Linked DNA regions of Homo sapiens. The protein of the gene in region 2 interacts with the protein of the main gene of each other region in a pairwise test. Each region holds a gene or a part of one and is shown on either strand. Other genes may lie near its edges.

The links.
Region 1: the proteins of ZNF239 (region 2) and WTAP interact in binary tests that used the Homo sapiens proteins (3 or more experiments, as listed by UniProt).

What each region holds. Positions count from the first base shown.
Region 1 is NC_000006.12:159,751,455-159,755,372, reverse strand, and holds part of WTAP (pre-mRNA-splicing regulator WTAP), read right to left. Parts: intron 1,914-3,918; coding exon 1,759-1,913; intron 346-1,758; coding exon 1-345. UniProt on the Homo sapiens protein: Associated component of the WMM complex, a complex that mediates N6-methyladenosine (m6A) methylation of RNAs, a modification that plays a role in the efficiency of mRNA splicing and RNA processing.
Region 2 is NC_000010.11:43,567,707-43,571,624, forward strand, and holds part of ZNF239 (zinc finger protein 239), read right to left. Parts: exon of another isoform or gene 2,685-3,918; coding exon of another isoform or gene 2,468-2,684; intron 754-2,467; exon of another isoform or gene 316-753; coding exon of another isoform or gene 189-315; intron 1-188. UniProt on the Homo sapiens protein: May be involved in transcriptional regulation.

The DNA.
Region 1 (3,918 bases), on a different chromosome or scaffold from region 2:
CTGAGCTGTTGGAGGACTTATTACCATTCCCTGGAGAAGAAGGAAAGTCATCTTCGGTTGTGTTGCCCTCCCTGTGAAATCCAGACCCAGACGTCCTCTGGCGGGAGGAGCTACCATTACTTGGTCCGTTTGTCAGACGACTGCAGTCTTTACTTGTGGCCTCTGACTGTTCTACAGGTTCAGAAGCTGTAGTCCTGCTGGTACTTGGGGCAGAGGCCTGAGACTGCTGCTGCTGGTACTGAGCCAACTGCTGGCGTGTCTCCTTCAGCTGCTGCTGCAGAACTAGAATGGTACTCTGCATACCCTCTACTTCTTCATCAAGCTGGATGATGAAGTCATTCAGTTCTGTGCAAAGGAGAGTCAGACCAACTTTAATATCGTTTATAACATTGAAAAATGTTTCTTTAGTGCCTGCCACAAAGCAAGGGAGTCAATAAACGCTCAAGTAAACAAATACAATTCTAAAATCACACTACATTTAAAAATTTTGCTTGGAATCTTAAAATATGACTGAGTTTGTTTTGGGGGAAGTCAGATACTTAAAATAATATACAGTTGGCCCTCCACATGCAACAATGAATTCAAGCAACTGTAGAAGGAAAATATTCAAGGAAGAAAAAACTGGGTCTATACTGAACATGTACAGATTTTTTTTCTTGTCATTATCCCCCAAACAATACAGTAAAATAACTATTTTCCTAGCATTTATATTGTATTAGGTACTGTTAATCTAGAGATGGCTCAAAGGGGAAGATGTACATAGGTTTATATGTAAATATGACATCATTTTATATGAGGGGCTTACTGTGGGAGGTCCTGACACCAATCCACCATGGATACCGAGGGCAACTGTATTAAGCAACCAAGTTAAAATTGTTTTGATCCATCTTGCCATATGCCTGATTACAGCCCCAAAGTTTGACTCACGTTTACCTATGGGCCCACTATGGCCAATCCCCTTATTCCTGATCCAGTGCCTTAGTTCCATAGCAAGTCTGATCCTTAAGGATAGTGTGGTCCTCTATAACACTCCAAAGAGGCCCATGTTCTCAACCAAGGACTGTTACATATAAAAGGACAAAAGTCACAGGAAATAATTCCTGAAGATTTTGAAAAGGTAGGTAGTTCAGAAGAAATTACTTGGCTACTGATCATCTTTGCAATTAACCAGAGACACTAATTTTCAATTTAAAATTTCAAAGAATTTGGATATTTTCCTTATTAATAATGCACCTTACAAAGAAGAGAAACAGAGATACAGCTACACTTGCACTAAAAAGGATGGAGGCTGACAAGTTTTATCTCAGCAAATTTAAAGATTAAATCTCTTATTCACTAATAAAACCTTCACAGATACAATCAACTTTATTACTTTCAGATCGCTGAAAACTGCCCATGTTTCTAAGATTTACACTTAACGAGAAATGCTTATTCTCCCTTTCAAACAATGAATACAAATTTGTCCATCTTGTTAAGTAATACAACACCCTTTTATCTTTTACCAAATCCTACCCCCAACTAAAAACAAAAATGTAAGAAATTTTGAACAATAAAGAATTAGGAGGGTGGGGATAAACAAACTAAAATTATATGGCTTTGTTTGCGGACTCAACTAAAAATGCTTCACTCACAATAATATACAATCATAGGGCAGAGGTTAACAATGTACAGAATCTAACCTATAATATTCATGACTGGCAGTTTTAAAAAGCCAATGCAAAGTTGAGACAACGTTCCAAAAAGAAACAAACCCCTTACCATCCTGACTGCTTTTAAGCTCCTCACTGTATTTCTTCTGTAAAGCCAACTCTGCTTCAAGTTGTGCAATACGTCCCTGGGACAGCTGCCTTCCAAGCTCTTGATTCTCCTGGATAAGCATTCGACACTTCGCCATTAACTTTTTCCCTGTTTGGCTGCAAAGGAAAGAGCCATCCATCACAAAATGAAGACAAAACTCTCTGTCTTTGCTTACAATTATTACAGTGATAGATGTAACACATACAAACATAACTATATCACAGCAGATGCTTCCCCATAATTACCATCTTCTTTTCTGGGACACATCCATCTTCTGCATTTCAGTATTTTGCCAACACAGCAGTAAAAATAAACCCTAAACAAAAAGTGCCCAAACAGCTACACCTTGTTTCTATTACATCAATAATCAATTCTGAAATCCATCTATTTTCATCTCAAATTATCATTTGAAATGGAAACAGAGCCAGTTAATTAACACACACCTTGGCTATACCAGTATTATTACACTAAGGAATCTAGCGCTTTATCAGAAAAGTTCTTGAAAAGGTACATGCAACATCAATCACAAATATTTATGAAAATCAGTACCTACAAATAAAAATGAATGAGAGTATTTATTCTTGCTAGAAAAACATTTAATAAGGATTTTCCTTAACAGGAAGTCCTCCAGCATGGGCAACATAGACTCCAACTCTACAAAAAATTTTTTAAAAAGTAGCCAGGCACACATGCTTGTAGTGCCAGCCTCTGGAAAGGCTGAGGTGAGAGGACTGCTTAAGCCCAAGTGGTTGACGCTGTGACCATGCCACTGCATTCCAGCTTCGGAAACAGGGACCCTGTCTCAAAAAAGAGGAGGAGAGAGGGAAGTTTTCTGGTACATCCATCTTCCATAACTCTCAAGAATATTATCTATTATATTAATTGAGGCACATTCAGCAGTTAAGGTTTTTTTTTTAAAGACTTAAGACTTTATTGGAAAAGATCATCCTTTTGACACAAAAATAAGACCAGTGGTCACGTATCACAATTCAAACACGCAAATATCTGCCAATCTAGGAGTGTCACACTTTCCACAGATTATAGTTTCCAAATGCTAGTGCAACATACTACTGAACCTATGTGCACATACATAGCAATTGCAAATATGTAATGAAAAGCTCAAATGTTTCCCAATAAAATTTTACTGCTTTTCTTTAGCCTCAGCAATAAAAGGAGAAATTATTTGCTTGTTCTTGTAATTATTTATGAAAAAAGAAAAAAAAAGAAATGATCACTTTTAAAGGGATCTAAGTAAATAATTGTGATATTTACCTTTGAGACTTGGATAAAGACAGTGTGACATTCTTGTCCTTGGGGTAAGTCCAGGATGACCTTATGGGTTAAAACATTTTTTAAATTCTAGTCTTTCCTTCTTCTAGTGAGGCTTTCACTTGCCTGATACACTACTTCAGTATGCCTTATAAGTTTAAAAATGAGAGCATTTTGTAAATATTTTATCAATCTTTGAAGTGTTGCATGGTTCTTTCACCTACAGCATTTTTTTTTTTTTTTTGAGATGGGGGTCTCACTGTGTTGCCAGGCTGGAGTGCAGTGGCGTGATCTCAGCTCACTGGAGCCTTGACGTCCCCAGGCTCAGGTGATCCTCCCACCTCAGCCTCCGGAGTACCTGGGGACTATAGGTGTGCACGAGCACCCCCAGCTAATTTTGGATTTTTAGTAGAGATGGGGTTTCGCCTTGTTGCCCAGGCTGGTCTCAAACTCCTAAGCTCAAGTGATCTGCCTACCTCAGCCTTCCAAAGTGTTGGGATTACAGGCATGAGCCACCGTGCCTGGCTGCATGTTTTCTAACCTAATGTAATTCAAGGAAAAGTTTGTAATTAAGCTTTCTTCCAGAAAATACCTGAAGAGTTCAACCTGGGTTACTACTGCTCAGAGGAGCCCGAGGGTGAAAGCCACCAGTGAGCATGTGGTAAAGGCTTTATTCTTTGATATGATAACTTTATTAGCTGGTGTTCTTGTTCACTGCTACTGTAGCTCCAGATTTCCACCATTTCCCATCAGCACTCTCAGGCGTTAGCCTCCACTGAACATCCACTTAGAAATTAAACAATGGGAAAATGAGAGATATGCAAGATTGTCAAAAACAATGGAATTCCTTCC
Region 2 (3,918 bases):
GTCCCACCTCTGGCTTATAAAGGATGGAAAAGGTATGGTTTTTGAGACAACCCAGTAAAACTACCATTCTCCAATTTTTACCAAGTTCTTTAGCTGCTTAGAATAGTCAGAAAACATCCTTTTGTGTCAAAAAGGAAGTAGGAAACAAAGAAGCCAATGGGCAGGTGTCCAAGTTCACATGTCCTTACCCACCAAGACCAAGTTTCTGTAGTTGCCCAGCATCACAGCTCCGCACAGCTTCCTGGGAGCAGAGTCCAGGTGACCTCACTCCTCCTCGGTGAAGGCCACAGAGGCATCCTTGAATGTAACTGGTTCCTAAAACATTAAGCACATTCCTCCTCAACAAACAACCATCTGCACAAATGCCCTGCAAGTGGGGTGAAGTCAGCAGCACTGGAAAAGGTAAGAAAGGTATAGAAGAAGTTTGCAGCTCAGGGATCTGAGTGAGCTAAGCCAAGTTTTGTTGGAAAGTCTTTCCTTTCTCACTTACTTGGCTACTTCCATCCAAATCATTTCCCTCCTGCCCACAACATATCTACGCTCAAGTTCTCAGCTACTGAATCTTTCTGTGTCACTCTCTTCTTGTGTCATTGCTGAGTTGTCATCTTCACCCCATTCCCACCATTATCCTGACAACCTTAACACTCGCAGGAACAATTTACCCAACACTCTGACCTCACATTTCTTAATCTCCACAGTGCCAATGATCTCAGCCACATTTCATCAAACTGTAATAACCATAATCGGGACTAGTCCACTACCTGGACCCCTCTACTCTTAAAATATGAATCTCTCTAATATCCTACAAGTTAAAAATCACTTCCTATGCTTTCTGTTCTTCCTCTTCTAAACTAAGTAGTTGAACATTACTGGGAAAATAAAATAGCACATATACACACAGCCATAAAACACTCTCCTGAGGGATCCCTTGACTTAAAATACCATTCACTGCCAAATATTTATTTCCAGCCCTAACCTCTTACCTCACCTCCAGACTCCACCTTTCTACCTTTTAACATCTACACTGGGACGTCTAAAGTGCTTAAAACTTAACAGGCCCTAGCTGGGCACGATGGCTCACGGCTGTAATCCCAGCATTTGGGGAGGCCGAGGTGGGCGGATCACTTGAGGTCAGGAGTTCGAGACCAGCCTGGCCAACATGGTGAAACCTCGTCTCTACTGAAAATACAAAAATTAGCCAGGCGTGGTGATGTGTGCCTGTAGTCCCAGCTACTCAGGAGGCTGAGGTGGAAGGATCTCTTGAACCCGGGAGGCGGAGGTTGCAGTGAGTTGAACAAACAAACAAAAAACAAAACAAAACACTTAACAGGCCCCAACAGAACTCCTGCTCCAGCAATATCCATCAGCATCTGCTCTTCCCCAGTCATCCCCATTTTAGTAAACAGCCACACGAACCACTCAATTGCTCAAACCAAAATCCCCGATGTCATTTCATTCTCATCCTCACATCTCACCTATCACCCACCTCCTTTACCGCTAAAGCATATCGGCATCCACCCAGCTCCCCTGCCCTGCACTGTCACCTCTCTAGGCCTAGGCAGCACTTGCTCTCACCCACATCAACCTCCTGGTTGGTCTGACTCTACTCCTGCTCCCCCAAACATGAGTTTTCCACATGACAGCCAAGGTGATCTTTTAAAACAAAAACAAGGCCAAGCATGAAACCCTCCAAAGGCTTTTCAGTGGCCATCCAGTAAAATCCAGACTCTTCATCCTGGCCCATGAGGCTCTCCTGTCACCTCCCCAACCTAGGCCTCTCTTATGATCATATTCAGCACCAGTGACCCAGCAGGCCCTTGAACTGCATCAAACTCATTGTAGCTTCTGCACTAGCTGCCCTCTCCATTCCTCATGATTCAGCTCTCAGTCCAACTGTTGCCTCTTCAGAAAGCATGTCACTGACCATCTAATCCACTGGAGCATCCTGTATATATCATTTTCCTGGTTTAATTTAATTAATTTCTTCTTATAACTTATGCCTTACCTTATTTTCTTATTCACTTGCTTTCTTATTTACTGTCTTTCCCTGCTGAGATTTAAATTCCCCAAGAATAGAGAGGCTGCCTCATTTGTTCATGACTGCATCCCCAAGACCTCAAGCAGGGCCTGGCACATAAAGGGAGTCCAAATATTTACTCAGTCAATGTCAGCAAATCTGGTTCCCTTCAGGGCTCTGTCTGATGAAGCAATGCTTCTTAAACTACCTGTGGTGAAGAACCAGTTTTTTTTTGTTTTTGAAACTCTCAATTTCAGTACTTATATCTGCACAGTGCATGGGCTGGCACCACTCTCTAAGGCACAATTTCAAAAGTAAAGTGATAGAATATATAAAAAGTCATAAAGGCTGTCTCATAAATTTGATCAGCTAAGCCAGCTTTGGCCTGAGGCTAAAGAGGCACCACTCCCTCCTTCCTTGGGCCTGCCCTGCAGGAGTGACATGACTTACCCAACTTGTCACCAGTGGGGAAGGATGAGGGTAAAGATGAAGGTAAGGATGGGTGCTGTCTCCCAAGCTTTCTGTTCAAGGTCACTGGTCTCCATTCTGAGGAAGAGGGCTGGAAAAGGAGGCTCAAGCCCCGGAGTAAAGGTGGGACAAACAAACAGAAGCAAAGGTTGCTGCCTTCAAGCTCCATCACCACATCCTTTAGCAAGGCATGACCCATGGCATATTAAAAGCAAGTGGACTGGCTGCTCTTCCCAACCAGACCTTCTCTTCAGACCACAGAGAAAAAAAAATTTCTTTCTGTTTAAGGCTAATCTCTTCCTGTGCATTCTAGATCAAATCCCTTCTTCTATCTTCAGAGATGCAAGCCCACCAATTATCTTTTCTCTCCCTTATTTTTTTATCCGTCTTCCATTCAGTTGTCTGGATTGTCTAATCCTCCTTCTCTACCTCAACAATATTCAAACCATTTCAGATCCTGTCAATTCTGCCTCCTAAATTTCCCTCCAATGTGTTACCTCTTTTCCATTTCCACTGCCAGTCTTAGTAAGACCCTTATTTTTTTTCTTACCTAGGCTACAATAACTCCTTACCAATTCTTTGTAGTACAATTTTTGTCATCTTCCAGTCCCTAGGTTAGACAACCAGAGTTATTAATTTTTTAAGGTCCTCAAGATAAAATGGCAGGCGGGACTCCATTCTGAGAAGGGAAAGGATATGTTGGTGGACTACTAACTTTGTGGTAGGTAAAAAAAATGACAGGAGTAGACCAAATGAAAAGAATCATTGTGACAAGGGAAAGGAGAAAAGGAAAGGAAATTAGTGCTCCTGTTAAAGCAAGACAAAGGTGGGACTGAAACACTGAATAATCAACAGTCTTCCCAGGTATCAGTGGCACTAAGGAGTCACTCCAAGGCTGTGCTCCTGCTTACAGTTGGGAGAGCAGACTTGATATTCTAAAGGCCAACCAAAGAGGAAGGTCACAAGTTCAATTGTTTCCTGTTTCTATCAGACAAATGTCGACCTCCTCAGAACTACATACATGCCATCATGTGGCCTTCCACTTCTTTCTAGAGCCCATCTCTGCTGTATCTAACAATTTACTTTGAAGTGGAAAAGCAGGAAGAGGCACACTAGATTACCTGGAGTCATTCAACACATTACACTTGAGTCTAGCACAGTCCTTTCTATAGTAAGCCCTAACTTATTGAGTTCTCCCATCCATTTTGGAGCTTTCAGTCTCAGGACAATAGCCTCTTTCTGAAGCATGAGGATGAGTTAGAATTCTCCTCCTCTGAGATCTCATAGCATCTTTCACATCCCTCTACTATAGCTATTAAGTCTCTCCCAAGTTGGCTGGAAGATTCTGAAGGATAGGGGCTACACTCAACTCATCTTTGTTGTTTGAAACAGAGTCTCACTCTGTTGCCCAGGCTGGAGTGCAGTGGCATGAT